Linked DNA regions of Homo sapiens: region 1 is linked to region 2. The links come from fine-mapping of genetic effects on gene expression. Tissue or cell type: CD4 T cells. Region 2 holds a variant in brackets; the other region holds the start of a gene. All regions are shown on one strand. Distances are from middle to middle.

The links. PIP is the estimated chance that this variant, and not a neighbour inherited with it, causes the effect.
Region 1: it holds the start of PRKAR2B, and the variant in region 2 is fine-mapped to the expression of PRKAR2B in CD4 T cells (BLUEPRINT, PIP 0.95).

What each region holds. Positions count from the first base shown.
Region 1 is chr7:107,043,163-107,045,847 of GRCh38, forward strand. It overlaps PRKAR2B (protein kinase cAMP-dependent type II regulatory subunit beta), which reads left to right and starts at 1,543. Exons shown (of 11, transcript NM_002736.3): 1 at 1,543-2,052. The coding sequence starts at 1,746. RefSeq lists silencers at 1,296-1,855, 1,642-1,936.
Region 2 is chr7:106,065,564-106,068,248 of GRCh38, forward strand. No RefSeq gene overlaps it. Among named protein-coding and RNA genes, the nearest start is that of SYPL1, 45 kb to the right of the region's middle. The variant C/T (reference allele first, on the strand shown) is at 1,147.

The DNA of each region.
Region 1 (2,685 bases), 980 kb after region 2:
AGTCTCACTCTTGTCCCCCAGCCTGGAGTGCAACGGCACTGCACGATCTCGGTTGACTGCAACCTCCGCCTCCTGGATTCAAGCGATTCTTCTGCCTAAGCCTCCTGAGTAGCTGGGATTACAGGTGCCTGCCACCATGCCCGCTAATTTTTGTATTTTTAGTAGAGATGGGGTTTCACCATGTTGGCCAGGCTGGTCTTGAACTCCTGACCTCAGGTGATCCGCCCACCTCGGCCTCTCAAAGTGTTGGGATTACAGGCATGAGTGAGCCACTGCGCCCGGCCAAAAGTTTAATTCTTAAAATGCTCGACACAATTAGAAGCACTTAACTACTGTATATTTAAAGCAACGTAACATTATTACTATAAAGTTGTTAAGAAATGAAAATAGAGAAATACATTGGCTCATGGAGTCAATACAGGATGCATCATTAACAAAGGGTTAACATCAAGATCCATTTTTACAAGAGGGACTAGTTCGTTACATCTCTGATTTCTAGACTTGGAGTTTCCCCAGTCATGTGTTTACTCTTCCGTGGGTGGGAAGATAAATCAGAATAACCAAGTGAGCTTGCTCTTGAAATATTTTATTTACAATGATATGATAATTGTAGAAAATGAAGTATGCGTACTTAAATAGAATTTAATTGACAAAAGACAATTTTCTCTACTTCAAAATTGTAAACATTTGCAAAGTAAGCCTCATTTCAAAGTCAAAGCCTTCTACTTTAAAAGCACACATTAGTAATTCTATTTTTCTTTATACTGAAGTATTTCAATTTTTGGACATACAAGTCAAAAATCATTCAAAGCATAAAGGAAAGTTTCAAAATAATAAGCGCCTCATCCTGCACTATCCTATTTAAAAGAGATCAACTAACTTTGATAGGTGCCTCTCAATAAATGGTGCCTTTGTCTCAATAAATAGTAAATGCGTGGAGTGCACAACGGAATAGCATCAGTAAGACGAAACATAATAAACAGGATGGATCGGGAAAGGCTGGATAAAATGTGGGGAAGAAAAAGAAAGACGTCACAAAGATGGGGTAGCATTTCTTTGTCCAAAAGAGAACCAGTACCACCATAAGACTTTAAACAAAGGACATTAGCAACACTTATCATGCAACTAGATTCTAGAAGGAAAATAAAATGCCACTACTAAGGTGGAGGCTGAAGTTTCAAGACAAATCTCCTGGCACCACCTCTGCGGGGGTTCACCATGGCGAATGACGCCTGGGAAGCGGGGCGAGTGGCCAGCCCGCTCCTGGACGCGCGGACAGGTGGACACGAAGGCGGCCTCGCTGGGCCTCCCTCCGCCTCTCCCGGCCCGGGCGCGCAGCCCTGCGGTGGTCTGACAGGCGGGTGCGCGGCGCCAGCCAGCGGAGGTTGCCATGGTTTCCGGGGGTCACGTGGGCGCGCTCTCCTGCGCCCCCTCCCGCGCACCGCGGCGGGGCGGGGGCGGGGCGCCCGGGCGGGGGAGAGGCGCGGCCGCGGCTGGAGCGGGAGGAGCAGGAGATGCTGCCAGCCCTCCCGGGGCCGCGCTCGCTCAGCCGCCGCCACCACACGGAGCAGACGCGCGCCGGGAGCCGCGGGCCGGGCCAGCCGGGCCGCCGGGGCCCAGTGCGCCGCGCTCGCAGCCGGTAGCGCGCCAGCGCCGTAGGCGCTCGCTCGGCAGCCGCGGGGCCCTAGGCCGTGCCGGGGAGGGGGCGAGGGCGGCGCCCAGGCGCCTGCCGCCCCGGAGGCAGGATGAGCATCGAGATCCCGGCGGGACTGACGGAGCTGCTGCAGGGCTTCACGGTGGAGGTGCTGAGGCACCAGCCCGCGGACCTGCTGGAGTTCGCGCTGCAGCACTTCACCCGCCTGCAGCAGGAGAACGAGCGCAAAGGCACCGCGCGCTTCGGCCATGAGGGCAGGACCTGGGGGGACCTGGGCGCCGCTGCCGGGGGCGGCACCCCCAGCAAGGGGGTCAACTTCGCCGAGGAGCCCATGCAGTCCGACTCCGAGGACGGGGAGGAGGAGGAGGCGGCGCCCGCGGACGCAGGGGCGTTCAATGGTGAGGACCAGACCCCCCACTTCGCGCCCCCGGATCCCCTCGCTGCCCCCCACCGCTCCCCGCTGTGCTCTCGGATCTTGCCGCTTTGCGCACCCACCTCTCCCCGCATTCTCCACCTTTCCCTACCTTCCCATCTCGCCCACCCCCTCAGCATCCATTTCTGTCTCTCCCACTCGCCCACCTTCCTACTCCGCTCTCTGTCATACCCTCTTCCCTTCCTCTAGAGGTGGGAGAGCTGGGATGTTACGCTTCCCTCTTACCCTTTGCCCCCTCTGCCTGGGCCGGTTGGGGTGGGCATCTGCTAGAAAGACAACTTTCGCTGTGGTTGGAGGTATTTCGCTTAGAGGATACCATTGTGCATAAAGAAACTGGCCCGCTTGGCGTCTTCTTTCAGCCCTTGTATTTATTAATGGAATGTCGAAAGAGAAAAGGAGAACCGTGTTTAATATGATTGGCTTTACTGTTGTTAGGACGGTAGATTCGCTAAAAGAAGCATGAAATTGGACTCACTGGGGCAGAACAAAATTTATGGCCAGTAGCTCTGACATTCTTGGAAATAAGAGTTATCTATTATTTTCCAATTTACCAATACCGTGTTGTGTTATTTTTGGACACGTAACAAAGGATTCTATT
Region 2 (2,685 bases):
CTTCCCAGCCTTCTATGGAAGCTGGAATCCACTCTCCCGAGGCCATTTCTCCTCCCGGGGTTCCCTCTCTGCAGCCTCAACCCCCCAGTGCCCTTTGTCCCCTAAAGCGAGCAGTTTGTTTTCAGTCCAATACCTCCAGGGGATGGGGGGGGGCGCCTGGAGGAGTGTCCCAGGAGAGGGTCCCACCAGCCACGCTGCCCTGAACCCCCTTAAAATGGGGGTGGTGTGACAGTAACTTAGAGACCACTTAGATGACCTCAGGCATTCTGAGAAATCTAAAGGCTGATCTGAAGCCAGAGGAGGAAAGTTCATTCACCTTTGTCCCAGCCCCTCCCCGACTCCAGGACTCTAGCGTTGGCTGTTTTTATTTGCAGTCCAGCGTCCGGAATGAGCGGAGTTCCTTTTGGGAAGGATGTGCGGCAGGTGTGCTCACTCTGCCCGGGAGCGTCTCCCCGCCGAGGAGCGCCCATGCTGACTGCGAATTGTTCCACACTGCACGCAGAGCATTCCTTTAGCAGCCTCTTGTTTTCTTAAGTGACTCTCTACAACTGTTTCCTTGGAGGCGTTTGTCTAAATAAGCTCTTCTTCTAGGCAAACTGGTGGGGGGAATTGATTCACTATCCTCAGAAATTAGGAAGCATGAAATTATACTGGCTCTGCTACCGGGGAACAAAGAGCAGGGGCGTGGTGTGCAGCGGCCAGTGCAGGGCCCAGGACAGGGTGTGGGGGCTAATCACAGCCCGCGGGGTGGGTGGGAAGTGCCCCAGCCCCAAGCTGGGACTGTGCTTCTCGGCACCTTCCACACCTTATGTAGCTCCCCTTTGGTCTCCACGTTTCTGGAAGTCACAGCTGCACCCTGGGTCACCTTAAGCTTTTTCACAGTGGACCACATGTGATTCTGAGTTACATTACTTTAACCTCAAGAGCTTGACTATTTTCTATATCGTGAAGTTATAAAAGGATAGTGGAATCTCACAGTCATTTGAGAGACAATACTTTTTTTCGACCATATGAATGTTTTGTACCATGGAGACAGTGTGAGCCAGGCTAGGAGGTCTGGTCAGAGACACTTATTTTATTTTTAGTTTTAGTTTTTGTAGAAATGAGAGTCTCACTATGTTGCCTAGGCAAGTCTTGAACTTCTGG[C/T]CTCAAGCAATCCTCCTACCTCGGCCTCCCAAAGTTTTAAGATTACAGGTGTGAGCCACTGCACCTGGCCAGACACACTTAGTTTAAGGAGCAATGTGCTATAGGCAAGAAAGCCAAATATATCTCAGGTCAAATCTGGCTCTGCTGTGTGATTTGGGGCAAATTAATGAACCTCTCTGCACTTCTGTTTCCTCATCCATCAAAGGGGAATAATAAAACCTATCTCACTGTGCTGTAAAGATTAAATAATGAAATGGATGCAAACTACCTCACATAGTACCTGGCCCACAGCAAGTTCTTAACTAAAGAGAACTCTCTTTCTCTTCTAAAACCTAGGATGCCTGAGGAGTCTAGGATTAGGAATCTCTGAATATTTACTAGTAGCATTGCTGGGGTGGATCAGAAATATTTGGGAAAAAAGTTAGGAGGAAAATGGCACCTATGAGGATGTCATAGTCATCAGCAATGAAGGATTTGAGAAGTTCTTTAGCAGAAATCAGGAGATTACCTCTTTCATTCAAACCCTAGCGAAGGATGCTTTACACTATGACTATGATTACAGAGAAATGAGAATATTTTCCATTTGTGATATAGAAAAACCATTCCCTTAACTGGGGGCCACATGCTGTAGGGAGTTCAATACCATTCTCCAAGTACATGAGGCCCAACCTACATCCTGGTTCTGTCTCTTTCCCCAGCCCTGGTCCTTTGCAAGAGGTAAAAGTCTTTATAAGTGCATGAGAATAACTGCTCAAAATCACTTTTAGGTTTCCCCCAAATTCTCCTGATCTCTAATAAAAACAAATAATTGAGGGGATGTGACATTACCCTTGGTCACTAGTGATTTAGAGCTTCTGTCCATTGCTCCTTGGAGCTGCTCATCCTCAAAGGTACCCCAGGCAGAGGCCAGCAGCGAGTTCAAGGCCTTGTCAAGAAGGTTTTCCTTTAATAATACGCATCCACATACACAAAACACAGGCCTTCCTGGAATTGCCAAAAGACAGCAGCTGCAAAAAGGACTTGGACAAGAAAGTTTATTGCAGCTTTATTCCAAACAACCCAGATGCCCATCAACAGGAGAATGGTAAACAAATTATGGCATATTTATACGATGGAATATTACACAGTTATAAAAACAGCAAATTTTTGAAATGTGAACCTCACAGTCATGATGTTGAAAGAAACAAGACACAGATAAAAAAGTACATATTGTGTAATTCTATTTATAATGGAGTTCAAGAATCAGCAATGTTAATCCTAGATGACGGAAGTCAGATAGCAGTTACCTTTGGGTAAGCATGCTTACTTTGGACTTGGAAGGGGCACAGATAGCTTTCTGGGGCTGTGGAAATGTTGCGAATCTTGGTTTGGGTAGTTACATGGGTGTATGCGTAGATAAACATTCACAGTGATGTGCGCTCAAAATTGTGCATTTTATGGGACATAAATTAAAAACGTAAAAATATTGAAAAACAGAAATTGGAGAAGTGTTAAAGGGTCAGGTTGAATGAGGACTGTCTAACCTGGAGCTGGCATCAG